Linked DNA regions of Homo sapiens. The protein of the gene in region 1 interacts with the protein of each later gene in a pairwise test. Each region holds a gene or a part of one and is shown in the gene's direction. Other genes may lie near its edges.

Region 1 (7,849 bases):
ACCTCCCCCTCCCGGGTTCAAGCGATTCTCCTGCCTCAGCTTCCCGAGTAGCTGGGACTACAGGTGTGCGCCACCATGCTTGGCTAATTTTTGTAGTTTTAGTAGAAACGGGGTTTCACCATGTTGGCCAGGATGGTCTCGATCTCTTGACCTCATGATCCGCCCGCCTCGGCCTCCCAAAGTGCTGGGATTACAGGCGTGAGCCACCGCGCCCGGCCTATTTGTTACAATTAATGAGCCAATTCCACGATCACATAACCATTGTTGACATTAACCAAAGTCCGCGCTTGAGTCAGATTTGCAGAGTTTTCTCCTCACTGCCCTTTTCTATTCCAGGATCCCATGACAGATTCTGTTGTCACGTCTCCTTACAGAGTTTGAGCGGTGCTGAACTGTCAGCACCATCTGTCCGGTGAGTGACGGCTGTGGACTTAGTCTTCCTGTTGAATGTGGGGAATCAAAGGAGGGTGAAGCGGGGCTGAGCCCAGTCCTGGGCCCTCTGAAGAAGGCAAGGTGGGAGGTGGTCGTGGGTTCCTTGTCCCCCCAGAGGAGGGGCAGCAGATGGGACCTCGCCTGGCTTTCTTTTTGCTTTCTTCTTTTTTTTTTCTGTCTCATCTATTTCAGGTGCGTGTGTGTGTTTTTAATCCTGGGTAAAATACACGTAACACTGATCACTGTAACCATTTCTAAGTGTGAGGCAACCACCGTGACTATCTCCACCCAGAACGTTTTCATCATCCCCAGCACAACCTCTGCACCCATTAAACAATCACCCTCCCTTCCCCACTCACCTCAGCCGCTGGCCGCTTCTATTCTACTTTCTATCTCTATGAATTTGCCAGACATAGAGGGGCGTTCGAGAGTCCCAGGTGCCTCATCGTGGAAGTGGAATCACACAGTATTTGTCCTTTTGTGTCTGGCTCATTTCGCTTGGCATAATGTCCTGAAGGTTCGTCCGTGTTGTAGCGTGTGCCAGAATTCATTTCTCTTAGGGCTGAGTAATATTCTAGTGTGTGTATGAGCCTACTGTGTGTGTTCATCCGTCTGCGGATACGTGGGCTGCCTCCACGTTTTGACTTGTGAATAGTGCAGCAGTGAGCATGGGTGTGCAAGCATCTGTTTTGTTGTTGTTGTTTTATTTTTTAAATAGAGATGGGGCTGGAGCCCAGGCTGGTCTTGACCTCGTGGACTCAAGTGGTCCTCCTGCCTCAGCCTCCCGAAGTGCTGGGATGAGAGGCGTGAGCCACCGCACCCGGCCCAAGCAACTGTCTGCTTCCATTTTTTTTGGTATATGCCTATAGGAGAGAAATGGCCAAGCGGCTGCCCACAGGGCTGGTGCCTGTGTTTTTGTGCAGTTCTTCCTGGGCTTCTCTGAGGGAGCAGAGCACGCCTCCCAGAGGGGGCCGGGTCAGCAGGGTTCGCTGGAACCCCACAGCATCCGAGCCTGAACCGACGCCTCTCTCCTTGCTTTGCCAGGTCCCAGCATGCCTTCTGAGACCCCCCAGGCAGAAGTGGGGCCCACAGGCTGCCCCCACCGCTCAGGGCCACACTCGGCGAAGGGGAGCCTGGAGAAGGGGTCCCCAGAGGATAAGGAAGCCAAGGAGCCCCTGTGGATCCGGCCCGATGCTCCGAGCAGGTGCACCTGGCAGCTGGGCCGGCCTGCCTCCGAGTCCCCACATCACCACACTGCCCCGTAAGTCCTGCTTTTGATCACAAGAGGGCTGATCCATAACCTGGAGGGCAGGAGTTTGTTACCTGGACACCACACAGCCAGGAGGACATGAGGTGTAACCCCCTGTAGTCACTCTGGATTGAGGAGCTGGGGGTGGGGCCATGCCGTGTAGATGAGGCTCTGAGAGGCCAAGGCCTCCTTACGCTGCAGCCCAGCGCCTAGGCCAGTGCCTGGCAAGACAGTGGATGCTCAGCAAGTAGTTCCAGAATAAATAAATAAATGTGCCCAGGTCACATGCTTTGCCCGGTCTGTGGCTGCGTGTGCACATTCACTGGAGGTGAGGGACCAGGATCCTGCCTGCGCTCTCTTATTTATTTATTTTTTATTTTTTTGAGACACGAGCTGGAGTGCAGTGGTGCAATCATGGCTTACTGCAGCCTCAATCTCCCCCAGTTAAGGGATCCTCCCACCTCAGCCTCCCAAGTAGCTGGGACTATGGGTGCCCACCATCACACCCAGCTGATTTTTGTATTTTTAGGAGATGGGGTTTCACCCAGGCTGGTCTTGAATGCCTAGGTTCAAGTGATCCGCCTGCCTTGGCCTCCCACAAGTGTTGGGATTACAGGTGTGAGCCACCGCGCCCGGCCCAGCCTGCACTTTTCCGTTAACTCTAGGTCATGAAGACTTCCCGTAGGCATTACATATTTTTCCATAAGGGCTGTTTTTCTGGTGGCACAGACTGTTCGGTGAAGAAGCCATCATTTTGTAAGCCCTCTACGGGGTAGATAGATGTTTGCAGTTACCTCATTTTACATAACTGCAATAGAAGATACGACACATTCATTTAGCCAACAAGTCTTTCCTCAGCGCCATGTGCATTTCGTGCCCTGCTCAAGGCGCAGAAGATCTATCAGTGGAAAAGACAAATCAACAAAAATCCCTACCCCAGCATGAAACTGAAATCAAGCTCACTAAGCCTTAGGATTATCTTTATTTCCTTAGTGTAATCTTGGAGGAGAACAAATAGATCAAAGAATGTGCTTCTTAGATGTTTGATTCCTTTTTTTTTTTTTTTTTTTTTGAGACAGAGTCTCGCTGTCACCCAGGCTGGAGTGCAGTGGCGCGATCTCAGCTCACTGCAACTTCTGCCTCCCGGGAAGCGATTCTCCTACCTCAGCCTCCCTAGTAGCTGGGATTACAGGCATGTGCCAGCACGCCCGGTGGATTTTTATGCTTTTAATAGAGATGGGGTTTCACCATGTTGTCCAGGCTGGTCTTGAACTCCTGACCTCAGTTGATCCACTCGCCTCGGCCTCCCAAAGTGCTGGGATTATGATTCCTATTTTGTGTCCACCACTACCAGCGTTTATGGTTGTTGATTTACAGTTCAGAATGGGTGGGGGTGGCTGGGTGTACTCTCAGTGCAGCAATAGAAAGAAAGAAGTGACAGTGGACAAACCCAGAAGGTCTGAGTGTCAAACATACTCAGTGCTGGGAGCTCAGGAGGCCAAGCAGATGTGTGGGCAGCCAGGAGGATGGGCTCTTGCTGCCAAGACAAACCCAAGAGAGCAGTGGGTGAGAGGCCCGGTGAGGTCGGGAGTGGCTGCTGGAGGGTGGAGTGGGCAGGGAAGACAGGCCCGATTCCTGAGGGCTCCGTGAGCTCCTAACTCTAGGGCATGAGAAGGAGACGATGCCCTCCAGGTTGTAAATGGCGTTGCACCTGCACCTCACATACTGGCCTCATTCATCCTCCGAAGACACCCCCATCCTGAGACGCAGAGCCGACGCCGCTTGTCTCCAGTCGGAGGGCCCCTGAGAATAGTGGCGTTGCGGGGAGGTGCTGCAGAGGTGGGTCAGGAGTTGGAGGTTCATTCTAGGACAGTGGCGTGTCCTCCCAGGAGCCTCTTGGGCTGTGGAAGTGGGAGTCCTTGAGATAAGGGGCTCCAGGGCTATCCCTGCAAGTCACATCCTTTTTCTTGCTAAGCGCTCTGGGCCTGGCCCTGATCACCTCTGCAAACTTCTCAGGTAACTTCACAGCCACCGAGGCCCAGTGCTGAGTCAGCACACCTGCTGCAGGGAGGCGGGACTCTTCCCGCCTGGCTGGCCAGATGCCCGAACTGAATTAATGAACTAATCCCCGGCGCTGTCACCCTGGGGCTTGGCTTTCCACCTGGCCCTGGCTCTCTACACCTGCCAAGCCTGGTTCCCTTCTGCCGAGAACTGCTTCTGAGGGAACCTCCCTGGCCCCTGTACAGTTTGGGGACCTGGCAGGACTGCCTTCTGCTCCCCGGGAAGGGTGCGATTGGATTCCAGCTGCTCTTGTTGGCGCCTGTTTTGGCCTTCAGGGTAGCTCTCCCTGCAAATGTGGCACTCCCTCCATGGCACAGGACCTCTGGGAGCTGGGTTCACCCCAGGTCTAAGGGTCGCCTCCTGGGGGGCAGGACCCAAGGACCCTGGCTGTTCAGCAGGTGACTGTGCTGAAGAGGGGGCCCAGGGTTAGCCACGGGGTGTCATCGGAGCTGCAAGGCCCAGGGAGGGGTTGCGGGTCTGGAGACCGCTGTAAGCCATGCGTGTTCCCAGATGAGTATGTGGTGAGCTTGGTGCAGATAGATAGGGGGTGTCATCAGCATCTCCCTGGGGGAGGATGGCAGGGGCATGAGGGCCATTTAGGAAACCACCTGGACCAGGGTTTGAGGGTTTACACAGCCAGATGCTGCAGGGCAGGGCATCACGAGCCTGGCCGACAGCGCCTCTGCCGGGGCTCTGAGTCTGCCACGTGCCTGACATTTTCTGTGCAGGGCTAGACATCCCGCCTGCGCTTTGCAGCCATTGTCCCTGGTCTAAGGAGTCTCTGCCCTGACACTTTTTTGCTTCCTATGGTCACATGCTGAGAGATGAAAGGAAATGTCATCTCCAGTAAAGCCTTTCTGAAAAGGTGGACCTAAACCTTTGTTTTGGAGTCAGTATTTGCTTATTTTAACTTTTTTATTTGGAAATAATTTACTACTCACAATAAGTGGCAAAAATAATAGATCCTTTGTACCCTTCTCCCAGCTTCCCACTAACAACATCTGCCACGACTGTAGGTTCATTTTCAAACCTGGGAAGCTGGCATTGGTGCAAATAAACCACAGGCATGATTTGCTTTTTATAGATTTGTATGTCTAAGCATGTGTGTGTATGTGTGTTTCAGGCGTGTGTGTGGGATGTGTGTTAGGTGTATCTGTGTACAGATTTGTGTAACCACCACCCAGATAAAGCCAGTTCTTTTTTTTTTTTTTTTTTTTTTTTTCCAGTTCTTCGAGTGTTGATTTGTGTAAGACAATGTCTGCCAGGGCTGGTACTATTTTTTTTTTTTTTCCTGAATAATTGTGGACTCCTCTGTTTCAGGGCAAAATCTCCAAAAATCTTGCCAGATATTCTGAAGAAAATCGGGGACACCCCTATGGTCAGAATCAACAAGATTGGGAAGAAGTTCGGCCTGAAGTGTGAGCTCTGTGAGTGCCCTGGCTTTGGAGAGGGGCTTCCTCCATCTACACTGGGCTCCGTGGGCCTGGGGGGTCCTGGGGGGTCCTGGGATGGATCCCTTAGGCAAGGCCCTGGGATCAGAAAACTCGCTGGTTAATGAGTGGCCAAGAACATATCAGCTTAAGTTTGGGAAAAACACACAACAGGGCATTGTGTCAGAGGGTGACCAAAGTGACTCCCCAGCAGATGGACCAGGGAACGAACAGGTGACCTTTGAACTGAGGCCGGAGTGGAAGCAGCGAGGGTGTGAAGGGCCGGGTGAGGGTCAAAGGCAGAAGCAAGCAGGTGGGGAGGGTTAGCGTCATGCCTGCTAAGGAGCAGTGGACGGGTCCTAGCACGTGCTGTGAGCCACCCGCTGTCCAGGGAGCGGTTACCTCTGTCTTGCCAGCTTCGTGGGGACAGATAGTTCAGCTCATCATTTATGAGACAGAGAATGGGAATTTGGAGGGTCTGTGGCTGGCCTCGTCCTGGGTGCGCAGGGGGTCACCTGAGGTGTGGTCTGAGGCCTCCGGGGAAGGGCATTTCTTTGCAGGACGCAGTTTCCAGGCTCAAGAACGTGGAGGGAATTCCTAAGGGTCGCTCTTCACCAAGAGCGCAGAGCCCTGGTAGACCTCAGCATCGTCACAGAGAAAGCTGTGGGTGCAGAGGCCTTGGGGACAAGGCGGGGACGGAATTTCGTATTTCAGATGACCAAGGCCAAGTGAGTTCGGAGGGAGGCAGGAAGGGTGCCGCGGAGAACCCCGCGACAGGGCCAGATGGAGGGGGTGGAGTTCGAGTGGGAAGGAGAGGGAACCAGTAACATGGCTTGGGACTTTTTCATCCTGAGATGCTCTAATGTCCCAGCCGGGGGACCTGTGAGAGCTGGGGCAGGCGCTGGGGGAAGGAAGTCAGGGGTCGGTGCGTTGGGAACCGATCGCCGATTCACAGGAGGGGCCTCGTGGGAGCCTGGCCCTCCTCTGCCCCCCTCTAGGGAAGGAGATCTCGGAGCTGCAGCAGAGCAGCCCCCTTCACAGAGACCCCCAAGGCAGCAGGGCCGGCTCTGTGCTCATTTGTCAGACAATAGGGACCCTTAACTCGTACGCAGCACGCGTGGCTGGCTCACTGTGCTCCGTACAGGATGACGTCTAAACTTGGTGGTTGCCCTTGAAGTAGGTTTTGGAATGCCCGTTTTACAGACAGACACACCGAGGGTCAGGTTGGTCACGTGGCTTGCCGGAGGCCACCAGCTCTGATTTCTGCTTCGGAGCTGGCCCCCAGGCGCTAGTGAGAATGATCTAACTGAGGGTTTCACAGTATGGGACCCAGAGGGGTCCGAGAATGCAGGCCTGTAGAGGGCCAGACCCCGAGAGTCCTCCCCACCACACACAGCGCCTCGTCCTGGTTCTAGGGGCAACACCTGTCTGGTGGTTGCTTTCAGAAATTTTGAGGTGCTGCAGGCTGGTCCCAGGTCCCTCAAATCACATTTCATGCAGCCCAGTCTCTCGCTCTTAAAAACTAAATATTTTTAAGAGCTGGAGAGGGAGAGAGGACTTGCAGTAAGGAAGGAAGTGCAAGTGAAGGCCTTGGCCTTGTGCGGGAACCGCGCAGGGAGCCCTTCCCCGGGCAGGTGACGCCCCACAGGGGGAGGAGGACAATGGGAGGCTGTAGGGAGAGTATGCGAGTCCCCATCCGATGGGGAAGCCAGTGCTGTGGCTTCAGGACATCAAGCTGCTTTGGCAGGGGCCGCTGGGTATGGCTGGGCATAGGGGCGTAGGGGACCCAAATCCAGGCGCCTGCCCGCCACAAGCCCAGCTCGTGGGTGGGGGGACGGGGTTTTCTGCGGCGCCCCCCAGTGAGGGCTGCTTATGCCTCTCTGGTTCCCACAGAGTTGCTCAGCGCCCTGCAGGACCGGTAGGATGGGCTGCAGGGGGAGAAGCTCTGATAGGCTAGTGCCCAGGTGCAGGTGTAGGGGAGGTGAGTGGAGAGGTGGCAATTTTTCAGAACCCACAGACCCCCAAGCCCGTCCCCCACCCTGGGGTGTATCAGGTAATGGGGGGGTGAGCAGGAATCAATGGGGGGGTGGTCAGGGGGTCCCCTCTGTGATTCATCTCTGCCTCCCAGTGGCCAAGTGTGAGTTCTTCAACGCGGGCGGGAGCGTGAAGGACCGCATCAGCCTGCGGATGATTGAGGATGCTGAGCGCGACGGGACGCTGAAGCCCGGGGACACGATTATCGAGCCGACATCCGGGAACACCGGTGGGTGCCAGGCCCAGAGGGGGTGGCCAGGGCTGGCTGTCCCCTACCCATGCCGAGCCTGCCGGGACCCGGGGGGGATGGCTGAGCTGCAGCCGCATGTGCTGGCCCGCCTGGCCGCCTGCTCCCTGGCATCTTGCACCCGCTGCCGGCCTGTGTCCCAACCTAGCTTCCTTTGACCAGCATTCGGGGCCAGTGCCGATGCTCTCGGGGCGATGGCACCTGGCAGTGCCTGGCACACAAGACGAGCACCCGGAGTCTGCTCTTCCTGTGCCTGTGTACCCGGCTGGGCCTGGAGGAACCAGATCTCCTGTCCTGCGCCGCTGCCTCCTCCTCCTTGACGTGTACCTTTTATTTCTGCCTCTGGCAGCCTCTCTCCCCCTGCACTTGAAGGCAGAAGCAGCCATGTTGGGCAAT
Region 2 (7,849 bases), 650 kb from region 1:
TGGGTGACTGTGACGGGGTTGGAGGCTGGTGCACACAGGGAGTCAGGGCCTCCCCACCCCAGCCTTGAGTGGGAGACACACAAGTCCTACGTGACTTATTTCTGTATTTTCAGTATGAGCTTAGTGCTCTCTCCTTGGCCTCTCCAGGGAAAGATTATTTAGACTCATATTCAGAATCATCAAAATTCCCTTCTCTCCAAACACCAGCCCTGGCCTGGAGACCAAGGCTACCATTGGGGTTTAGTGGAAAGGATTGTGGACTTGACGTCAGAAGATGTGATTTTTTTCTGTGTCCCTGATGAGTGGCATGACCTTAATCAAGTCATGTCCACTCTCTCTGTCTCTTTTTCTTTCTCTACAAAACAATGAGGGCTCTCACTCTTCAAGAACAATGTTGCCTGAGTCTGTGGCCCATCCTGCCATAGTTCCCGGGACACAGAAGGCACTCAGTATTGCTGAGATTTGCCGACTCTAAAATCTGACGAGGCCGCAGTGCCTTGGTGGGAGGGCTCCCCACTTTCTCTCTCTGGGAGCGTGTCTGTCTGTGCTCAGACATGTATGAAGCACAGATCCTGGCCTGTAAATCCATCCCTGAATCCTGGGCTTCCACTTGGATGGCAGCTTGTGAGTCTGGAGATCGAATCTGCTGAATAATTAGAAAGTCGCCCCCGGTCTTTGTGGATTAGTATCCTTTATCAAATGATGGCTCTTTCACACCCAGGCCCTCCCCCAGTGAACCTCATTGGCAGCATCTTAAAAACAGGAAGACTGAGGCTGCAAAGGGTGAAGGGCCTGCCCAAGGTCCTGTGGTGTGTAGAGCGGTGTCCCCTAAAAATGTTTGTCCACCAGGAACTTGGGAATGTGACCTCACTTGGGAATAGGGCCTGTGCAGATGCGATTGGTTGGGAGGAGGTCACACTGCATTAGGGTGGGTTCCCGTAAGGGTAGAGGCCGCACAGAGACACAGAGAAGCCATGTGCCGACTGAGGCAGAGACTGGAGTGATGTAGCCACAAGCCAAGGGACGCCTGGGGCCACCGGAAACTGGAAGAAGCCAGGAAGGACCCTTCCCAGGAGCTTTCGGGGAGAGCACAGCCCTGCCAACACCTTGATTTTGAACCTCTAGTCTCCAGAAATGGGAGGCAATACATTTCTGTTGTTTGAAACCAATCTAGTCCCCTAACCAGGCTGGCGGAGCAGGGACCTGAACCCACCTCTGTCCTGCTCCATGCTGCCTGGGTTCATGCTGGGCAGCCCCACTTCCTGTGGGAGCCAGCGTTGACCTCACATCTACGCCCCGACCCTAAGCAGGCTGTGTCCTGCCCTTCCATGGCCCATGCTCTCAGCCTGACACCGAGGGGGTGGAGGGGACTCTCTCAGTGATGAGTGACCAGTCACTGCTCTGAAGTGGCCGAGGTCCCTCTTGGGGCAAATGCATGAGGCCCCCTTGCCCGCGTTGGTCCTCCCCAGTGAAACGTGCCCATAGGCACAGGTCCGCAGAGAGAAGGAAACGCAAGGACCCGTTCAGAAGTCGGTGTGACTCACTCTGACGTCAGCAACCTGCAGTGGGTCTTTCCCAGGCCACACTCACTCGCATGGCAAGGCGGTCCTCCCCGACTGCTAAAAACAAAAGTCAGGAAAGGAATTTCCCCACCACCTACACACTCATGCTGCTCCCCACCACCTACACACTCATGCTGCTCTGGGCTGTGCAGCCTCAGTGCCCCAGCTTTCCTAGAGACCGTGGGAGCTTCCCATTTGCCTCTAAAGGCTCACCTCTCACGTGGGAGACAGCAGTGAGCCCCAACTTCGGGGCTCCAGGGAAAGGCTTGCATCAACCTTGACCTTTTTTAGGGGGTGAGCAGATCCTGTTTGTAAGTGCCCTGCCGTGGAGTGGGGGCAGGGTACGTCTGTGCACCGACACGGCGTCTCTAGCAGGAAACTTTAGGTTAGGAGGCTGATTTCCCACTGCAGCCTTGGCGAGCAGGCGCTGCCGTCCTCCAGCAGATGCTGCTGAAGCAGAAATTGGGCAGGCCCAGAGGCTCAGTCAAGGTCACCCTGCAAAAGGGGGCAAAGTGCAGCCTAAAACTAGGTCTATCTGACACCAAAGTTTGTGTTGTTCCCGTCAAGACACAGACCGCCTCCCTAGGACATAAAATACTTTGTGGCTCAACTGAAATCAGATCCTGGCTGCTTTGGTGATGCCAGCTGCTCTGCTCAGACTGACCTGAGAGCCCCTGGCAGGACCAGGGAGGGCTAGGGCCACAGGGGCAGAGGACACCCAAAAAGACCTGAGGCTCAACCACTCCCAGGACTTCCTGCTTCACCAAAACAAGGTGAACCTTAAAGACACTGTGTGTTTTATAGTTTTGTTGCCTAAAGAGTTTTCTTCTTGAAACTCTACGATTAAACAAAAAGCCGTTGAACTGGAGCTCGGGCCTGCAAGTCCAGGCCACTGGGTAACGTGCACACCCCGGGGAATGGAGGAGCCGTTTACTCTGTGCATCTGAATCGTGCATTCGGGCAGCTAGCCTGCAAACCGATAGGCCCCCGAGACCCTGAACCCACATCTCCATATCGTCCTCTTTCCTACTTCCTGGAAAAATCTACAGGGATCCAGCCATCTCCTTTATGATGTGAGTTCTGAGCGGGCCAAATGAGCTCTGAGTTCTGAGAGCCCTTGCCTTGTGGAGGAAGCATGGAGGTCGGAGGAAGGAGACATTTAGGTAACGGTGTCCTGGCACCCTCTGTGTTTCCCTGATTTCACAGACTGCTCCGTGAAGCCTTGCACCAAACAGCTGCATCTGACCTTGGCCCACAAGTTCTACCCCCACCACCAGAGGACGCTGGAGCAGCTGGCCAGAGCCATCCCCCTGGGCCACAGCTGCCAGTGGACCGCAGCACTCTACTCCCGAGACATGCGCTTTGTGCACTACCAGGTGAGAGAGCTGAGCAGGGGCTCATAAGAAGCAGATGAATGGGCTGGGCTCGGTGGCTCACGCCTGTAATCCCAGCACTTTGGGAGGCCGAGGCGGCGGATCATGAGGTCAGGAGATGGAGACCATCCTGGCTAACATGGTGAAACCTCGTCTCTACTAAAAATACAAAAAATTAGCCAGGCACGGCGGCGGGCACCTGTAGTCCCAGCTACTCAGGAGGCTGAGGCAGGAGAATGGAGTGAACCCGGGAGGCGGAGCTTGCAGCGAGTGGAGGTAGCATCACTGCACTCCAGCCTGGGCTACAGAGCGAGACGTCTCAAAAAAAGAAGCAGATGAGTGAACGGCCACTCACCTGACAGCATGTACCCCCTGGAGCCCTCCAAGGGAGATATGTTAGTAGCAAGGAAAATTTCTATTGCTTCTCTAAAGCCATTCTCTTTCTTGTGCAATTTACAACCAGCATTCTTTTATATGTGAGTTAGAGATGCACAGACAACAAAATAGAAGCATTTCCAATATTAGAAAAGGAAGCTGGGTGTGGTGGCTCACACCTATAATCCCAGCACTTTGGGAGGCTGAGGCAGGTGGATCACTTCAGGTCAGGTGTTCGAGACCAGCCTGGGCAACAGGGCAAAACGCTGTCTCTACTAAAAATACAGAAAATTAGCCGGGCGTGATGGCACGAACCTGTAATCCCAGCTACTCGGGAGGCTGAGGCAGAAGAATCACTTGAACCTGGGAGGTGGAGGTTGCAGTGAGCAGAGATCGTACCGTTGCACTCCAGCCTGGGCAACAGAGCGAGACTGGCAAAAAAAAAAAAAAAAAAAAAAAAGACAGAAAGGAAAGGACTATTGTAAAGATCTATGAATACATGTTTTGCTTATTAATTCTTTTTTATTTATTTATTTTTTAAATGTAGGGGCCATGCTAATCTTCTCTGCAGCATTCCAATTTTAGTTATATGTGCTGCCAAAGTGAGCACAATTCACTTTAAAGAATGATTTGAGTGAAACCTCATTCTGGGACTTCCTGCCCATGAATCGATGGGTTTAGAAACGAAGTGTGTGATGCTCCTTTCAGACCCAGAGAGCACGTGTGAATGAATCCACCATGTTCTGTATCGTATGAGGTGTCAATAACCTCACACCGAGGAAGGCGGATGTGAAAGTCTGCTTATGCCTTCAGATCTTTTGTAGACAAAAAAGTACCTAGATGGATGGATGATGGATAGATCCCAAAATGTATCTCTTTTTTTTTTCTTTTTTTCTTTTTTTTTTTTTTTTTTTTTTGAGAGGGAGTCTCACCCTGTCACCCAGGGTAGAATGCAGTGGAGTGATCTGCGCCCACTTCAACCTTCGCCTCCCAGGTTCAAGTGATTCTCCTGCCTCAAGCTTCCCAAGTAGCTGGGACTACAGGCACCCGCCACCATGTCCAGCTAATTTTTGTATTTTCAGTAGAGACGGGGTTTCACCATATTGGCCAGGCTGGTCTCAAACTCCTGACCTTGTGATCCACCCACCTCGGCCTTCCAAAGTGCTGGGATTACAGGCGTGAGCCACCGCGCCTGGCCCCAAAATGTATTTCTAAATCTATCCAAAGAATTCTATGCTGCGTTTCATTACATTCTGTGCTATATATTGCCAGACAAAGCTTTGGATGGAGTCTTGGAGACACAGAACACATTGGAGGGGCAGAAAGCAGGAGGTGGCAGGTGATAGGCCTCCTATTGCTGCCATTTTCCAATGTAAATCTTTGCTCGAGACGTGAAACCCCTTTGCCTCTTTTCTAGACCCTGAGAGCCCTATTCCAGTACAAACCCCAGAACGTGGATGAGCTGACGCTAAGTCCTGGTGACTACATCTTTGTGGACCCCACGCAGCAGGACGAAGCCAGCGAGGGCTGGGTGATTGGGATCTCACAGCGGACGGGCTGCCGGGGCTTCCTGCCGGAAAACTACACGGATCGAGCCAGTGAGTCTGACACGTGGGTGAAGCACAGGTGAGTGCTGCCTCTGGCTGCAGCCCCGTCATCTCTCTCTGAGTTACTGTGTGAGAGTGCCCACCTGCCAACAGTGTGCTTCTAGACCATTCCATTATTGGTAAAATTGCATTCTGTATGCTGACAAAATTATTCCTGCAGGTATATAGTAAACATCTTGGTTCGTCCCTGGTTTTCTGATGATAACATTCAAAAAAGAATGAATTACTCTGCATTAGAGTAATTTGAGATGGTAATCCCCAAATTACTGCAAAATACTACTTCTTTATCACACACATAATAAATTATACTCAGAGGTCCTGAGCTTGGGTTTATTTATTCTTCTGCTCCGTGTATGAAATGTAAAGTCCTAGGTCGTATTATTAGTTTTCTATGACTGTATAATAAATTACCACTAAAACAAAGTGCAATTATTATCTTATGGTATTTATGGGTTGAGAGTCAGAGTCCAGCTTCACTGGGTCCTCAGCTCGGGGTCTCAAGGCTGTAATCAAGGTGCCTGCCAGGGCTGGGCTCCCCACTGAGGCTTCACACCCTCGCCTGAGCATACACAGTTGTTGGTGGGAGTGATTTCCTTGAAGCTGTAGGGCTCCTGGTGAGTTGCTTCTTCATCAGCTGAAGAATCTCTTAATTTTAGCACCTTTTAGCATCATCTGGTGAGGCTAAGGATTTTCAGAATCATCAGATACTGGTTCTTTTTTGTTCGATGTTCTTCCCTCAATTTATCTCTTTCCTCTCCCGCTTCACTATAAATAACATGAAGAAACCAGGTGATACACTTAACACTTTGTTTGGAAATAGCCTTAGCTATGTGACCAACATCATCGCTTACAAGTCCTGCTCTCCATGGACAATTTCATTAAACTCTCTGGCACACATGGGAAGGATCCTCCTTGCTCCGATTTCCTGGAACACCTGTCACATTCCTTTCTGAGTTCTCCCCGGAGGATTCACCTTTAGCATCCCTATTTCCTCTAGCAGTCTGTTCATGGTGATTTGGGCTTTCTCTGCTGTGCTACTCAAAAGTCTCTTAGCCTCTACTCGCTGCCAAGTCCCAAAGTTGTTTCCACATTTTAAGTTCAGAAGGTTTCCAACTTACAATGGTTTGGCTTAGGATTTCATAATGTTACGAAAGTGATATGGGTTCAATAGAAACTGTACTTCAAGTGCCCATACAATCATTCTGTGCTACATTTTCAGTACAACATTCAACGAATTACATGAGATACTCAACACTTGATTATAAAATCGGCTTTGTGTTAGATTATTCCGCCCTATCATAGGCTACTGTAAGTGTTCTGAGCGTGTTTAAGGTAAGCTAGGCCAAGCTGTGATGTTCAGTAGGTTAGGTGCATTAAATGCATTTTCAATTTATGATGGGTTTGTTGGAACATAACCCCATCTGAAGTTGAAGAACATCCACTGTTTGTTAGAGTAGCACCCCATTCCTGATACCAAATTTAGTAAAAGTTTAACCAGAGATGCAGAACCAGTCACTTTCATACAATATATAATACATATAAGTATATGTACAGTTGTCCCTTGCTATCTGCAAGGGATTGGTTCCCGGACCCCCACAGATACCCAAATCCTCATGTTCTCGAGTCCCCGATATAAAATGCTGTAGTATTTACATGCAACTTATGCACATCACCCTGTATCCTTTAAATCATCTCTAGATTACTTGTGATATGTAATACAGTATAAATACTATGCAAATAGTTGTTATACGGTATTGTTTTTTATTTGTATTTTTTAAATTGTATTGCTATTTTTTAATTGATTAATCTTTTGAATATTTTTGGCCTGCAGTTGGTTGAATCCACAAATGCAGAACCTCCAGATACAAAGGGCTGACTATACATACATAGTATTTTATATTATATACACATGTATCACACACATATATATATGGAAAGGTATATATGTATACACACATCTATATTGATTTACTACAATGAATTGCCTTATGGAATTACTGGGGCTAGCTAAGCAAGGGCAGACAGGCAGGAAGGGAGGAGCCTACTTAGGCTGAAAACCCATGGGCAAGCTGAAGCTTGTTGTCCACATGTGGCAGTTGGAAGGACCACCCGGGTGATGGGAGAGCAGTCACAGACACAGCTGCTATTGAAGTCTCTGAGTGTGAGGAAAGCCTAAGTTTTTAAAAAAAAATGCCTTCCAACTGCATAAGTCAGACCTGCTCAGAATAACCTTGCTTTTGATTAATTTAAGCTCAACTGATTAGGGGTTCTAGTCACATTTGTAAAATCTCCTTCCAGCAGCACCTAGACTAGCATTTGATGGGATAGCTAGGAAGGCTGTGTGTGATGCTTAGGATGGCTACTGCCTCCCTTCCATCCTCCAGCTCTCATGAGAATGCCTCTTGTAGCCCACCCTGATCAGACATGTGCTAAAAAGGAAGTCTAGGAACTGTCGTTCAGTCTGGCCAAGTTGCCACACCATAAAGCCATTGCAAAGTGTTAAGGTGGCTCTTGTGAGCTTTTTCACTCTCTTCTCCCAGGTTCCAGTTAGGAGAGTGGAGAGAGCAGGCAGAGGTCAGAGTACACATGGTGAAAAAAGAGAAAAGCTGCTCAGCCTCATGGGTGTGCCTGTTGGGGTGGAGCTCTTGCAGGTGTCAAGACTGATGGTTGGAACAACTGAATGATGAGAGTGGGAGGAGAAGGGCAGAAATACACAGAAAAACCCTATGTTGTGGTTCTGGGCTTCCTGGCACCTTCAGAGCTGTGTGGCTGGGGAAGAGAGCCTGGAAAAACACCATCGTGGCCATCCCTCTGTCTCCAGGCAGGAGGTCTTAAAACCATTTTATATTTCACTCATTTGTTTAATTCTCTCCTAAAATGCTCCACAGCTTCTCTAGGGTTCCCCTCACCACCCTGACAAATAAATAAATCA
Region 3 (7,849 bases), on another chromosome or scaffold:
CTCTGATTTTAATTAGTTCCTTCCTCTGGTTTCTTGTATCCTTGGTTTAAGATACATCCCAGGCTGGATGCAGTGGCTCACACCTGAAATCCCAGCACTTTGAGAGGTCGAGTGGGGCAGATCACCTGAGGTCAGGAGTTCAAGACCAGCCTGGCCAACATGATGAAACCCCATCTCTACTAAAAATACAAAAAATTAGCTGGGCGTGGTGGCGGGCGCCTATAATCCCAGCTACTTGGGAGGCTGAGGCAGGAGAATCGCTTGAACCCAGGAAGTGGAGGTTGCAGTGAGCTGAGATTGTGCCATTGCACTCCAGCCTGAGCACCAAGAGCGAAACTCTGTCTCAAAAAAAAAAAAAAAAAGATGCATCCCAAATACCTTTTTTTTCTTTTTGAGATGAAGTCTCACTCTGTTGCCCAAGCTGGAGTGCAGTGGCGCGGTCTCAGCTCACTGCAACCTCCACCTCCTGGTTCAAGTGATTCTCCTGCCTCAGCCTCCTGTGTAGCTTGGAGTACAGGCATGTGGCACCACACCCGGCTAATTTTTGTATTTTTAGTAGAGGTGGGGTTTTACCATGTTGGCCAGGCTGGTCTTGAACTCCTGACTTCAGGTGATCAGCCCACCTCAGCCAAAGTCCTGGGATTATGGGCATAAGCCACCGCGCTTGGCCTCTTTTTTTTTCGTGGAAGTGGGGTCTCACTGTGTTGCCCAGATCGTTCTTGAACTCCTGAGCTCAAGAGATCCTCCCACCTTGGCCTTCCAAAGTGCTGGGATTATAAGCTTGAGCCACTGTGCCCAGCAGCCCCAAATATCTTAATGGTTGTTCTATTGTTTATGTTGCCCAAGCTGGTCTTGAACTCCTGGGCATAAGCAGTCCTTTTGCCTCAGCCTCCCAAAGCGCTGAGATTACAGGTGTGAGCCCCACCATGCCCGGCCTCCTCATCCCTTTCTTGATGCTTTTGGGTGGTCTTCAATATCTCTTTGATTCTCTACTTTTCTTTAGGTTTATTCTCGAGCCAATGAACAGGAACCTTGTGGCTGGTGGCTGGCCCGGGTGCGGATGATGAAGGGAGATGTGAGTGACTGGGAATGCCTTTGGAGAACTACTGAAACAAATATGTTATTCATAGAAAGTTGCTCAGGTCATCCACAACTTCTCCTTTTTTACCATGTGCCAGTTCTATGTCATTGAATATGCTGCCTGTGATGCCACCTACAATGAAATTGTTACCCTGGAGCGACTTCGGCCAGTTAATCCCAATCCCCTTGCAACCAAAGGCAGCTTCTTCAAGGTTACCATGGCTGTGCCCGAGGATCTGAGAGAAGCGTGAGTGTTAAGGATGGTGGGAATGAGGGCCCTCTTTACAGCCCTAATCTCTGGCTTTATTTCTCCCAGGCATCACTCCCACTTTGCAGTTTTCTCTGTTGTTCCCCTGGCCCTCTACTAGAGCCCTTCTTGCTAAGAAGACACTTAGTTTCTTTATTTTCCCATCCTTGTTCTTTAACTGTGGTCCCTCTTCTTTTCTTTTCCTTTCTTTCTTTTTTTTTTTTTTTTGGAGACAGAGTTTTGCTCTTGTTGCCCAGGCTGGAGTGCAGTGGCACAATCTCGGCTCACCGCAACCTCCACCTCCTAGGTTCAGGCGATTCTCCTGCCTCAGCCTCCCGAGTAGCTGGGATTACAGGCATGCACCACCACACCCGGCTAATTTTGTATTTTTAGTAGAGACAGGGTTTCTCCATGTTGGTCAGGCTGGTCTCAAACTCCTGACCTCAAGTGATCCGCCTGCCTCAGCCTCCCAAAGTGCTGGGATTACAGGCGTGAGCCACCGCACCCGGCCCAGTCCCTTTTCTTTTCTTATTTACTCAGCCCTGCTTCTCTGAATTTTTTTTTTTTTTTTTAATAGAGACAGGGTCTCACTATGTTGCCCATGCTAGTCTTGAACTCCTGACTTCAAGTGATCATCCTGCCCTAGCCTCCCAAAGTGCTAGGATTACAGGTGCAAACCACCATGTCCAGCCTCCCCCGAACTCTTCACTGTACTCTCTGCATTCTGCCCGCTGAGTACTTTTTTCCTCTGCAGCTGCTCCAATGAAAACGTCCATAAAGAGTTCAAGAAAGCCCTGGGAGCCAACTGCATCTTTCTCAACATCACAAACAGTGAGCTCTTCATTCTGGTGAGTTTATTCTGCCTGAATTTCACATAAGCCTTTTGAACATTTTTTCTTTTTCCCTTTTTAACCCTTTTGCAGAAAGAGAAGGGCTTAAATGTGCTTATATTTATTTGTCAAGAGGACTTTATTGCTCCTGACTCCTACAGGCCCAGGTAGCCCTACCTTTTTTTTTTCTTTTTTTTGAGACGAAGTCTCACTCTTGTCACCCAGGCTGGAGAACAATGGCACGATCTCGGCTCACTGCAACCTCCACCTCCCGGGTTCAAGCAATTCTCCTGCCTCAGCCTCCTGAGTAGCTGGGATTACAGGTGTGCGTCACCACGCCGGCTAATTTTTTTTTTTTTGAGATGGAATCTCACTCTGTCGCCCAGGCTGGAGTGCAGTGGCGCGATCTCGGCTCACTGCAACCTCCACCTCCCAGATTGAAGCGATTCTCCTGCCTCAGCCTCCCGAGTAGCTGGGATTACAGGCGCCTGCCATTGCGCCTGGCTAATTTTTTTTTGTGTTTTTAGTAGAGACAGGGTTTCACCATGTTGGCCAGGCTGGTCCTGAACTGCTGATCTCCTGATCCACCCGCCTCGGCCTCCCAAAGTGCTGGGATTACAGACGTGAGCCACCGCGCCCGACATGCCCGGCTAATTTTTGTATTTTTAGTAGAAACAGGGTTTCACCATATTGGTCAGGCTGGTCTTGAACTCCTGACGTCGTGATCCGCCCGCCTTGGCCTCCCAAAGTGCTGGGATCACAGGCGTGAGCCACCACGCCCGGCCTCTGACCCTTTTTTTTTAAACCTGATAATCATGTTGCCATCTGGGTTAGAGACCCTCTCTTGATATTTGGACTTTCAGAAATAGAGTATGTAGCTCTCACCTTATGCTTGCTCCTTGCTTTCTCTCTAAACCATTTTCCTTCAGTACCCTGATAGTCAGCCTTTGTGGGACTGACAATGAGTCTCCTCCTTCCTAGCTTCATTTCTTTTTTTTTTGAAAACAGAGTATTGTTCTGTCACCAGGCTAGAGTGCAGTGGCGCAGTCTCGGCTCACTGCAACCTCCGACTCCCGGGTTCAAGCGATTCTCCTGCCTCAGCCTCTGGAGTAGCTGGGATTATAGGCATGTGCCACCACGCCCAGCTAATTTTTGTATTTTTAGTAAAGACAGGGTTTCACCACGTTGGCCAGGATGGTCTCGATCTCATGACCTCGTGATCCGCCTGCCTTGGCCTCCCAAAGTCCTGGGATTGCAGGCATGAGCCACCGCGCCCGGTCTCCTAGCTTCATTTCTTAACCCTTTTCCCGGGACTTAGGCATCCTGATTTCTAGTCCCTGGCTCTCCCTTAGTGTTTATTCCAAGCCAGTTTTAATGACTTTCCCACTGGTTTCCTCCCAGTCAACCACAGAAGCCCCTGTGAAGCGAGCATCTCTGCTGGGTGATATGCATTTCCGAAGCCTGCGCACCAAACTGCTACTTATGTCCCGCAATGAAGAAGCTACCAAGCACCTAGAGGTAACTTTTAGCTCCTTTTCCTTCTGCTGAAGGGTATTGTCTTCCTCCCTTCCTACCCTGTCCTCCATCCATGATCTTGTGTTTACAGAACAAAGACTAAGGCTTTTTCTGGGCAATTAAACCTGGGTCAGCTATTTTATCTCAGACTCCTCCAGATGGCAGAGCTCTATCATGGTATAGTGCAATTATTTTCAAATTTCTTTTAGCCAATTTTTTTTTTTTTTTTTTGGGAGACAGAGTCTCGCTGTGTCGCCTAGGCTGGAGTGCAATGACACGATCTCGGCTCACTGCAACCCCTGCCTCCTGTGTTTAAGCGATTCTCATGCCTCAGCCTTCTGAGTAGCTGGGATTACAGGCGTGCGCCACCACACCCGGCTAAGTTTTGTATTATTAGTAAGATGGGGTTTTGCCATGTTGCCCAAGCTGGCCTCGAACTCCTGGCCTCATGTGATCCACCCGCCTCAGCCTCCCAAAGTGCTGGGATTACAGGCGTGAGCCACCACACCTGGCTGAATGGTTTTTTTTGAGACGGAGTCTCACTTTGTCACCCAGGCTGTAGTGTAATGGTATAGTCTCAGCTGACTGCAACATCCACCTTCTGGGTTCAAGCGATTCTCCCGCCTCAGCCTCCTGAGTAGCTGGGACTACAGGCTTGTGCCACCACACCCAGCTCATTTTTGTATTTTTAGTATTGATGGGGTTTCACCATGTTGACCAGGCTGGTCTCAAACTCCTGACCTCATGATCCACCTGCCTCGGCCTCCCAAAGTGCTGGGATTACAGACATGAGCCGCTGCGCCCGGCCTTGGTCTTGAACTTCTAGGCTCAAGAGATCCATCTGCCTGTACTTTGCAAAGTGCTAGGATTACAGGTGTGAGCCACCACATGCAGCCTAGACTAGAATATTTATTTTTTAGGGTGGGCGCGGTGGCTCACGCCTTTAATCGCAGCACTTTAGCACTTTGGGAGGCCGAGGCAGGCAGATCAATCCGAGGTTGGGAGTCGAGACTGGTGAAACCCCATCTTTACTAAGAAGACAAAAATCAGCTGGGCGTGGTGGCACATGCCTGTAATTTCAGCTACTCGAGAGACTGAGGCAGGAGAATCGCTTGAACCTGGGAAGTGGAGGTTGCAGTGAGCCAAGATTGCGCCATTGCACTTCAGCCTGGGTGACAAGAGTGAAACTCTGTCTCAAAGAAAAAAAGGATATGACTGGGCGCGGTGGCCCACGTCTGTAATCCCAGCACTTTGGGAGGCTGAGGCGGGCAGATCACCTGAGGTCGGGAGTTCAAGACCAGCCTGGCCAACATGGGTGAAACCCCGTCTCTACTAAAACTACAAAAATTAGCCAGGCGTGGTGGCAGGCGCCTGTTGTCCCAGCTACTCGGGAGGCTGAGGCAGGAGAATCGCTTGAACCTGGGAGGCGGAGGTTGCAGTGAGCCGAGATCACACCATTGTACTCCAGCCTGGGCAACAAGAGTGAAACTCCATCTCAAAGAAAAAAAGGATATTTCTTGTTTTTTTGTTTGTTTTTTGAGATAGCGTCTCTGTCGCCCAGGCTAGAGCGCAGTGGCGCTATCTTGGCTTACTGCAACCTCCACCTCCCAGATTGAAGCGATTCTCCTGCCTCAGCCTCCCAAGTAGCTGGGATTACAGGTGTGTGCCATCACACCTGGCTAATTTTTGTCTTTTTTAGTAGAGATGGGGTTTCACCATGTTGGCCAGGCTGATCTCAAACTATGGACCTCAGGTGATCCGCCCACCTCGACCTCCCAAAATGTTGGGATTACAGGTGTCAGCCACCACGCCTGGCCTGACTAGAGTATTTCTGTGAGATCTTTTTGAATTCTGACATCGTATAATTGTCAGATTCCCTTTCGTTGGTATTATACTATTCTAAGTGAATAGGGTGTGTGTGTTTGAATACCATTTCCATTTATCAAGGGAATTGATCTTTTTGGGAGGCTTTTTTCTGTGCCTGTGCAATTTCTGGGTCATGATAATCTTTGACTTCTTCAGGGATCCTGCTCAGGGCACTGGCAGGTAAAAATTCACCATTACCTTCAGATGATACAAACTTTATTTTTTGTTTTTGTTTTTTGTTTTGAGATGGAGTCTCAGTCTGTTATCCAGGCTGGAGTGTATGTAGTGGTGCGATCTCAGCTCACTGCAGTCTCTACCCCCCGAGCTCAAGTGATCCTCTCACCTCAGCCTTTGGGTGGGTGGGATTACAGGTGCATGCCACCATACCTGGCTATTTTTTTTTTTTTTTTGGAGACAGTTTCCCTCTGTCACCCAGGCTGGAGTGCAATGGCACAATCTCCGCTCCCTGCAACCTCTCGCTCCTGGGTTCAAGCGATTCTTGTGCCTCGGCCTCCCAGGTAGCTGGGATAATAGGCACGCGCCCCCACGTCTGGATAATTTTTGCTTTTTTAGTGTTTCACCATGTTGCCCAGGCTGGTTTTGAACTCCCGACCGCAGGTGATCCACCTGCCTTGGCCTCCCAAAGTACTGGGATTACAGGCATGAGCCACTATACCTGGCCCTAATTTCAGTATTTTTAGTAGAGACGGAGTTTCACCATGTTGGCTAGGCTGGTCGCGAACCCCTGGCCTCAAGGGATCCACTTGCCTTGGCCTCCCAAAGTGCTGGGATTATAGACATGACCCATTGCACCCGGCCTAATTTTTGTTGTTGTTTTTTAATTTTTTGAGACGGAGTCTCATTCTGTCGTCCAGGCTGGAGTGCAGTAGTGCGATCTCAGCTCACTGCAGCTTGTGTAGTTAGCGCAGAGTGAGCAAAGGGAGACCGATACAAAATTCGGTCAGAGAGTAGATCATGTAAGACATGTACGGTAGGCTGAGGAGGGGGGATTTTATTGTGCGTATACTGAGAAGCCATTGAGTTAACAGTGCCTTCTGGTTTTTTGTTTTGTTTTGTTTTGTTTTGTTTTTGAGACGGAGTCTCGCTCTGTCACCCAGGCTGGAGTGCATTGGCGTGATCTCGGCTCACTGCAAGCTCCACCTCCCAAGTTCACGCCATTCTCCTGCCTCAGCCTCACGAGAAGCTGGGACTACAGGCGCCTGCCACCACGCCCGGCTGATTTTTTTGTATTTTTTTTTAGTAGAGATGGGGTTTCACCGTGTTAGCCAGGATGGTCTTGATCTCCTGACCTCGTGATCCACCCACCTCGGCCTCCCAAAGTGCTGGGATTACAGGCGAGAGCCACTGTGCCCGGCCGAAAGTGCCTTCTGTTTTAAACTCCTGTTTCAATGACAGATGGAAAGGGGGGCAAGAATGGAAGCAGGAACAGAGCACAGTAGTCCAGGTGAGAAACTTGAACTGGAGTGCTAAAGGAAGAGAGAGAGAGTAGTTTTATGTAGGATAAATTTTACGAGTAAAACCAGTAGGACTGACAGGCTCTGTGATACTGAGAGATACATATTTGGTCTCCTGACCAGGCTCCTGGCATTCAACTTCTAAAATCCTTGGAATCTCCAGTGATGTGTGTTTTTGTGTGCTGATGAGTTGATTCATGGCTAGCCCCTCTAGGTGGCTTCATGATTAGAGGGTTGGAACTTTCAGCCTCACCCCCACCAACTTCCTGGGAGGGGAATGGGGCCAAAGGTTAAGGCAATCACTGAGGATCAGTGATTTAATCAGTCATGCCTAGTAGTGAAGCCTCTAAAAACCGGAAAGGGGCCGGGTGCAGCGGCTCACGCCTGCAATCCCAGCACTTTGGGAAGCCGAGGCAGGTGGATTGCCTGAGGTTAGGAGTTTGAGACCAGTCTGGCCAGCATGGTGAAACCCCTTCTCTACTAAAAATACAAAAAAAGGGAGGCAGAAGTTGCAGTGAGCAGAGATCATGCCACTGCACTCTAGCCTGGGTGACAGACCCCATCTCAAAAAAAAGAAAAAAAAAAAAGAAAACCCAGCTGTTCTGCAAGCTTATCTAGAAGACGCTTATAGGTCATTGTAGATCTCTTCCCCTCCCCTCCTAATGTAGTGATTTTGAACACTCAACTTAGTTTATTTTTCCAACTTTCTCTTCTTGCCTGGTATAAATCCTTGGTATAATTCAGTCCTATCCAACTTGGAAGTGGGAAGTAGTGTATTTCAATCTAGGAATGTCTCCTTTCAGGTATTGTTTCTATTTGGTGCTTACAACATGGGA
Region 4 (7,849 bases), on another chromosome or scaffold:
GCAGTGGCGCTATCTGGGCCCACTGCAGGCTCCGTCTCCTGGGTTCACACCATTCTCCTGGCCAAATATAAAGACTTTAACAGTGCTAGGACTTGGCCATGGGTTGGCTGGATATCAGGGGACTGTGAAACTGCCGTCAGGCGTGTGCTGGAAGTGTCTGCGGTGCCGTGCCCTCTGTAGATGAGATGGGACTAGTTGGCGGGTGCAGCTCTGTTCTGGACAGGAGTCAAGGTGCCTTTGGAAATCCAGGTGGAGTTGTCAGGATGGCAGTGTCTCTGAGGATTGTACTGTCTGGCGGTGGGGCGATGGACAGAGGCAGTGAGTGGTTAATGGTCAGACCCACAGCTGCAGTCCCAGGCATCGGGGCGCTAGGGTGAAACTAGGAAAGGCTTCCTGGAGTTGTTGCCCCAGAACTGAGGCTTCAGAGGTGAGTGGGAGAGCCAGGCAAAGGGAAGAGGGAAAGGGGCCCGCACACTCCCTGCTTGAGGACCGTGCCCGGGTCACTGCCGGCCACACTCTCACGGTGTCTGTTGAATCTTCTGGTCTTTCTACTCGCGGAGGACTTAGCAGTTATATTGACAATCCTCAGACATTTTTGGTGTTATTCTTGTTTAGAATGTAAGGAGTTCCCTCAGGCTGATTTATGAACTTCATGTCCTGGGAGAAAGCAGGAAAGTTCGGCTGAGTCACCGGCGAGGAATCTGACAGTGTGTGTCCTTAAACTGTGATCTTAAACTTCCTCTCTTCAACTGTTCTGTAGGATAAGGAGCCCCGTGGAATCATCCCTTTAGAGAATCTGAGTATCCGGGAAGTGGAGGACTCCAAAAAACCAGTGAGTATTTTTGCTGAGATATTTTGAGGGGAGAAAGGGGATGGGCATTTCAAAGATTTTTTTTAAAAAACTCAAAACCAAAAAACTGAAAAGCGTGATCAGGCTTTTATTTAGTCTAATTTTTTATTATATTGTTCAAGCCAAAGATGAGACTCGAAATCACTTCTTCCTGTGCCGTCTGTCTGCTTTATCGTTTCACTTAGTGAATGTCACATGGGGTGTAGAAGTTGCCCCTCCTGCAATGGCAGCGGCAAGCACGCAGGAGTGGGCTATGTAGTTTATACCCTTGGGACACCTCCCGTTTAGTTTTCCTTTGTTTTGGGCTGTCAGGATGTTACTGGCTTGAAGTTAAAGTCGTGAGTCACCTGCAGTTCTCTCCGCATTTTACGTACATTGCAAGTGGGGCCAGCTTATATCAGGCCGGTGTGTTTGCAAACGAGACTGACTTCTATACAATTTACAGTCTCTAGAATTCCGCTTCTAGGCTTCACTTTTCCACAGGAAAATATGTATTCCTTGTATTTTGTGAAGGTCAGAAGAAAGGGGTTTTGGGGAAAGAAATCAGCATGTTTCTCAGTTAACAGCTTCCTTTGCTCCACTCTCTCCCTCTCTGTTTTGATTCTCAGAACTGCTTTGAGCTTTATATCCCCGACAATAAAGACCAAGTTATCAAGGCCTGCAAGACCGAGGCTGACGGGCGGGTGGTGGAGGGGAACCACACTGTTTACCGGATCTCAGCTCCGACGCCCGAGGAGAAGGAGGAGTGGATTAAGTGCATTAAGTAAGTGACTGCTGAGAAAGGGCAGTGCGCGCCTGGTGCAGCCCTCACCTCACCAGGTGTTGATCATCTTAGTGGTTAAACATGCCGCCCGCATCTCTTCTGTGCTCCAAGTTCTTAGGGAAGCTTCGTCCTGGTTCCCAGCTGACGGCTTCCCAGGAGGCCTTTGGATTCTTGGCTATTATAGCATATGTAAGAGAGCACGTCCCATCTGGGTTCCCCACGTGTCCTCATAGACCCAAAATAGGAAGAGGCGAGTGAGCTACCCACACAGATGCCATCTGCTCAACTGGTCTTTCTGTGTCTGACGAAGCCGCTCTCATTCTCATAGTGACAGCTCAGAGGAGATAGTAGTCATGTTCTGTAATTTGTGAATCCTGTGAGACACCATTTTCCTAGCTACAGATGAGGAAACTGAGGCCCATAGAGGTTAAGAAATTTGCTGGAAGTCACATACCGTGATCCAAGGTCCGGGAGGAGGGAGAAGCTTCCTCAGGGTTCCACAGCTAAGAAGTGGAGCTCCCAAGTCCAGGCCTCTGACTCCTACCTCTCGGCTCTGTTGGCTCCACTGGGCCACGCCATGTAAGGTCTATCACGGGGCTGGAAATTTCCTCATGTGACAAGTATCTGGAAACATGGCTTTCTAAAGTCAGTTGGCTTCTCTTGCTTAATGTTCTTCCCTGGGACTTGGTCTGCCTGGCTCTCCCTCCAGTCCCTGTGCGAGGGTCAGCAGTGAGCATTCTGACTTTGCCTTCTCTCAGTGATGCTTTCTCCTCCCTCCAGTCCCTGTGCGAGGGTCAGCAGTGAGCATTCTGACTTTGCCTTCTCTCAGTGATCCTTTCTCCTAAGAGCACAGCCTTGCCCTCTCCCTCCTGGTGCTTCATCCATGAGAGTTCACCTAGCTGTTTTCCTGAGAAAGACTCCTCAGCTGCCTGTGTGACTTCACCTGGAAGACAGGGAGAATGTGCCCACAGGTGACTGCGAAGGTCCCTGTAAGTCCTCTGTGTACTGTGTGACGGGCTTTCTCCCACCCAGGCTACAGCCCCGTTCCCGAGGGTGTGCAATATCCTCTAGCCTTTGTTTTATCTTTTGGTATTTCTACTCAGACCAGTGTAGGTTTTGGCCCAAGCTAAATACCTTAAAACTGACTGAAGATGGAGATGATGTGATGATGGAGGGAAAGGAATAGATGATTTATCCTCTCAAAAGTAATCTGAAAATTCATGCAATGAAAACAGACAGGAACCAGCTGGAGAGAGGATGGATTTGGCGCCAGGTCACGCTGCGCTGAGACTCCTCGCTCTGTCTCTCTGAGCGCAGTGCCTGGTAGGTGGGTAACCTACCTCTTCTGTGTGATAGAGGTCATTTCTGCCTCATGGGGCTCTTTTGAGGATTAAATGAGATTGTGTAGTGGGCATGGGGTTTGGCAGCTTCCCTGGCATGACAGCCATCATGGGAAGTGTGGCCCTGAGCGGGGGCCAGCCCACCCTCCATTGAGCAGACGCGGTGCCACGGTGTTTTCAGAGTCCCCTACCAGTAATGGCACCAGCCCTGTGTTCTGGGGAAGAAAACAGCAGTGTTGTGGGGGACCGGTATCCTTTTTTTTAACATACTGAAAAAAAAATTTATTGAATCATTATGAAATGTATTTTTTATATAAGATTTGAAGTAAGGGTTTAAGTTTGTTCTCATGAATGAATAGCTGATGGTCCGGACACCATTTATGGATTCATTGGCATCGCCCCCACTGACTTCATATGCTCTCCTTAGAGTGTACCCAGCTCCCCCACCACGCTTCATGCACCTGTTGCTCCACCGCGCCTCCCAGCGTGAGCGCCGCCCGCCCCTCCCCCTGTGGCATCGTGGTGTCCTTTGACTGTGCTGGCTGGCGAGTTCCCTGTCCTCCCTCACTGGTCTTTCAAAACAGTTTTGGCTGGTTTTGTACATGTGTCTTTCATATGGTTTTTACTTCTATAGTCAGAAAAACTAAGCATTTTTCAAAGTCACATTTAGAATCATTCAATCCTTTCATGAGCGTGAGTGCCAAGTTCTCCTGTGGGCTTGCTGGACTCCTCTGCTCTGTCCCGGAGCGGGCTGGCCTCAGCCTCGGGATCTGCAGACACCCCCTTTGGCACTCTGCAGGCACACTGTCCTCAAACCTTCTTGCACCCAGTGCGAGGTGGGACCATTAGGATTATCCCCATTTCACAGATGAGGGACACTGAGGCACAGCAAAGTTGAGTAAGTTGTCCAAAACCCCACAGAGGTGGAGCTGGTCCTCAAACCTGAGCAGTGTGACTCATGCAGCTGCACTGGTAACCACCGTGCAGCCTCAGCTGTCCTTGGCCCTAGATACTCCTCCCAGTGGAAACATTGGTGACAACAGGAGCAGGAAGATGATCTGGCTGGTGGATGCCTCCTCCCCAGTATTGCCAGAAAGGCTTTCGAGGTCAAGTTCAGGACGTGTTTTCCTCTCACGAAGTGCTTTTCCTGGAGTTCCCAGCACCCTCAGTTCTAGTGCCCCTGCGTGTGGGTGGTCCCAGCATTCGGTTCTGTAGAATCAGGTGTGTTCTCTAATGCTGGGACTTTCTTCACGCTGTACCCAGAGGTACAGCAGTAGAACTGCGTGTCAGCGGTAACAGCGGCTGCCATCGAGTGTGTCGGCTAGGCGCTGAGATGTGCTCTTTGAATATGGGATCTCTTTTTGACTCTCCGGAACCCAGGGAGGTGGAGGTGGGGCATCTCCAGCTTGCATGTGAGGAAGCGGGAGTTGAGAAGCAGCAGGCAGGGCCAGGCAGGGCCGGGCCTGGGGCCTGGTGTCCGACCGCAGCCCAGCCCCCCTCATCGCCTGACACTCTGCCTCTGCACACAGGGCAGTGCCACACGCACCTCTCTGCAGAACCCCCCAGCTTACCCGAAAGGGTTGGCCTACCCAGGAAGCCAAGGGAGATTCACCCCAACACCTCCAAACATGAAAGCAGGTGTCCCGGCCGCCAGATTCCCTCGTGAAAGCACTTCAGGTGGTCAGACCGCTTCCCAGTGAGATCCCATCGGGACATGTTTCTAGTGCTCTTCAGTTCCTAGCATTCCCCGGGGAGCTGCGGAAGCATTTTCTCATGGACACACTGTCTCTTGTGAATAGGTTCCAGGTCAGCCCAGGAGAGCCATAGCAGCTGCTGGTGCCACCGTTCAGCAGGGGTGAGTGCCCTGCCTGCAGTCAGGAGGCTTGTGCCCGAGCTCTGGAACAAATCATCACTTAGGATACAGCTTCCCTGGAAAGAAATTAAGTGTCAGGACTTTTAGACCATAAGTTGCTTGAAAGTCGAGAATGGCAGACATAGGGTTGTGGTGTTGCCAGTCCACTGCAGGTGCTCCAGCCCGCGGCGCGGCCTGCGCTGCTGTCTTTGAGGCTGTAGCACAAGCATGAGCTCGGGCCCCCTCCCTGTGCACCGGAGACCCAGCCAGGTCCAGCCGGTCTGTCCATGGTGCCCCACCAGCAGCATCGTGCTGGGCAGTGCCGCCTGCAGAGTCATGGAGCCTTAGTTACTGAGCAGGTGCACGTGGGGGGCTTGGAAGGCCCCACTGCATTACCATGCCAGCTATCACACACCCCGTGCCAGAGGACTGCATGTGACACGGCTTGATTACGTGGCACTCGCTGCTGCAAAGCAAAGTCAGATGTCATCATGGAAACTCAAGCACCAGTCTTTTTCTCTGAATTGGAATATAGCTGTAAGAATGTGGTATGATTCTGTTCCTAAATGTGAATTGATTATTATGTTGAAACAGGTAAAAACCCCAAAATTTTCTTGTCACGTGTTCCTGTGTCTCTTTCGAAGTGTGTCACCTTAGGTCACTGTGTGGACACAGCAAGGGTGGAGGACGCTAACTTGGCCTTTGCAGTGATGGTGGGGTGGGACAGGTGTTCTGGGGCACGAGGGGCCCCTGAGAATCCCCTGCCTGGGTGTGTTTCTTCTGATTCTGTCCCTCACGTCTCTGTTTTCTCCCTTTTCTGTGCTCCAGAGCAGCCATCAGCAGGGACCCTTTCTACGAAATGCTCGCAGCACGGAAAAAGAAGGTCTCCTCCACGAAGCGACACTGAGCGTGCAGCCAAGGGCGTTGGTCTGCGGGGGCCTTGGAGCTCCTGCTCTTCTCCCGCACCTCCATGGATGCACTGCTGCCGAGCAGAGCGTCCTCTGCCAGGCCCCGCCCTGGATTCCTAGAGACTAGCTTCAGCTTTTGCTATTTTTTTTAAGTGGGAGAAGGGTGGGCAGTTATCACTGGGGAAGAGAGGACCGGCCACCTGTCCAGCATGGGCTCCAGAGCCTTCCTCTCTCACAGGGCAGAGCTCTTGTCGGCAGGGCAGCCTCCTGGCCAGTTTCTCTGCTCAGTGTTCTGGTAGCAGAGCTCAGAGCCAACTGTTTACCTCTTGGTTGTCCCCGTGAAGAAGCCTTCAAACCCTGCACCATAAATACATGTGTCCATATATTATTATATGTTAAGAGAAAAAGGTGGAAAGGAAGAGAAGCCACATACTATAAAGATCTATTTTTTTTTTTTTAAGAGAGAACGTAGGGCTGTTCAGGTGCATTCTGCCCTGGCTGCGCTGGGGAGCTTCTCCCTGGAGAAGAGCACCTGGGGCTGCGGCCAAGGGGCATCAGCCTGGGCCCGCGGCAGGGCCTGGCCTGCCTCTCCTGTGCTGTGGGAGCTCGCTGCCTGGTGCTTGTCTGGGCGAGATGGACAGGTGAGGTCGAGGACGCAGAGGGCAGAGGCCCAGTGGAGCCTCAGACGGCACAGTCAGAGTCGGGGGCCTGCCCTGGCCGGGGTCGCAGTCGGCAGCAGCGTGCAGTCCGGCATCTCCCGCGGATGCTTTTCCATCCCAAGTGCCTGCGGAGCGCCGAGGAGAGGAGAGAGCTGACTGGACGCTTACGTTATTTTCCTCCTTCAGAATCCAAGTTCTTGTTGGGCTTTAAAGTAGAAAGTCAGCATTTTCCTTGAGCTAAATACCTAATAACCAAAACTGTGAGGAAGGTTATCGGGACAGAGGTTCCGGATAACCTGTTTCATTTTGGGTTTTCTTCCTCTTCCCCAGACTCCAGTCCTCGTTCTAGAGGAAGGAGTAGGACTTCCCCGATCCCCGTAGGGCTTCAGCTTTTTCTGCCTCAAAACCAGCCCTAACTGGACTACTCTGGATGCATTTTGTGGTGGGCCCCCTAGAGGGGAAGATGGGCCTTTATCTGCTCCGTGGGGTGCACTGGAGTGAGGGGGGTGGCCGGGCTGCCTCTCGCATCTCTGTCTTCCCCTGCAGGCGCTGTGTGAGCTGGCCCTGCCCCTCCTCATTACAGTATGAAGGGAGCCGTGACACGCAGCATTTTCCTGCCGTTCTCTCAGGGACTCTCAGGGCAGCTCCTGCCACTCCGCCAGGGCCAGCATGCCAGTCCAGGCAGAGCAGGTGGCTGGCTGTCTGGCCGTCTCGCCCCGCCCCTCCACAGGACCCTGGACCAGGGCGGTGCAGGGCGCAGCCCTGAGGAGGCAGGTGGAGGAGCTGCGGGTTTTCACAGGGCCGCGTCGCCACGGCTCCTCTGATCCTTTAGGGTTGGCGAGCATCTCTGGAAATAGCTTTTGCAGAGGAGTGGTGGGAGGAATAGAGGGGGACAGTCTGTCACCTCCCTCCCCGCCACTTTGTGTAGATCCTACCTGGAGGGAATGGCTTTAGGCACTTTTGTGCCAGAGCTTGTGAGGGTGACAGAAGAGGGTCCAGGCTGGAAACCTGAACTTTCTGGGTGGGAGAACCAGGTGGTGCCTGCCGAGGTCTGGGCGTGTTTGGGCCGGTGCTGGAGCCTGTCCAGCTGGCCCGGGCCCTGGCCTGGTTCTCAAGTGTTTCCTAGACAGAGAGGCACCTGGGTCAGTATTAGTCTATTTATCAGAGGTGTAAATAATCTATGTATAGTTTTTCTCCTTTTAGATTATTTTGTATTTGTTTAAAAGAAGTTTTGTCAAAATACAAAAATATAAAGAAATGACTGAAAGTTGTTGACAGGGTTTTTAAGAAATAATTATTCTAATTGTTTTTGTTTGTTTGTTTTTGCCTTGTAAACTAGCGCCAAGGAACTGCAGCAAATAAACTCCAACTCTGCCCAAGCCATCTTTGTTGTTCGCGGTGTCTCTGGGCTCAGGCGGGGCCCTCGAGGTGGGAAAGGGGTGCTGACCGGACACTTGTGCAGGAGGGTGTTACTCCA

What was found.
Region 2: the proteins of CBS (region 1) and UBASH3A interact in binary tests that used the Homo sapiens proteins (3 or more experiments, as listed by UniProt).
Region 3: the proteins of CBS (region 1) and FXR2 interact in binary tests that used the Homo sapiens proteins (3 or more experiments, as listed by UniProt).
Region 4: the proteins of CBS (region 1) and CYTH1 interact in binary tests that used the Homo sapiens proteins (3 or more experiments, as listed by UniProt).

What each region holds. Positions count from the first base shown.
Region 1 is NC_000021.9:43,065,829-43,073,677, reverse strand, and holds part of CBS (cystathionine beta-synthase), read left to right. Parts: intron 1-336; 5' UTR 337-412; intron 413-1,476; 5' UTR 1,477-1,484; coding exon 1,485-1,693; intron 1,694-5,062; coding exon 5,063-5,169; intron 5,170-5,273; exon of another isoform or gene 5,274-5,621; coding exon of another isoform or gene 5,622-5,900; exon of another isoform or gene 5,901-7,044; coding exon of another isoform or gene 7,045-7,153; intron 7,154-7,300; coding exon 7,301-7,435; intron 7,436-7,849. UniProt on the Homo sapiens protein: Hydro-lyase catalyzing the first step of the transsulfuration pathway, where the hydroxyl group of L-serine is displaced by L-homocysteine in a beta-replacement reaction to form L-cystathionine, the precursor of L-cysteine.
Region 2 is NC_000021.9:42,413,674-42,421,522, forward strand, and holds part of UBASH3A (ubiquitin-associated and SH3 domain-containing protein A), read left to right. Parts: exon of another isoform or gene 1-2,635; intron 2,636-2,768; coding exon 2,769-2,938; intron 2,939-4,727; coding exon 4,728-4,936; intron 4,937-7,849. UniProt on the Homo sapiens protein: Interferes with CBL-mediated down-regulation and degradation of receptor-type tyrosine kinases. Promotes accumulation of activated target receptors, such as T-cell receptors, EGFR and PDGFRB, on the cell surface.
Region 3 is NC_000017.11:7,597,235-7,605,083, reverse strand, and holds part of FXR2 (RNA-binding protein FXR2), read left to right. Parts: intron 1-1,003; coding exon 1,004-1,075; intron 1,076-1,178; coding exon 1,179-1,327; intron 1,328-2,081; coding exon 2,082-2,175; intron 2,176-3,558; coding exon 3,559-3,675; intron 3,676-7,849. UniProt on the Homo sapiens protein: mRNA-binding protein that acts as a regulator of mRNAs translation and/or stability, and which is required for adult hippocampal neurogenesis. Specifically binds to AU-rich elements (AREs) in the 3'-UTR of target mRNAs.
Region 4 is NC_000017.11:78,673,954-78,681,802, reverse strand, and holds the end of CYTH1 (cytohesin-1), read left to right. Parts: intron 1-760; coding exon 761-832; intron 833-1,458; coding exon 1,459-1,613; coding exon of another isoform or gene 1,614-1,617; exon of another isoform or gene 1,618-4,752; coding exon of another isoform or gene 4,753-4,780; exon of another isoform or gene 4,781-5,633; coding exon 5,634-5,712; 3' UTR 5,713-7,755; downstream 7,756-7,849. UniProt on the Homo sapiens protein: Promotes guanine-nucleotide exchange on ARF1, ARF5 and ARF6. Promotes the activation of ARF factors through replacement of GDP with GTP.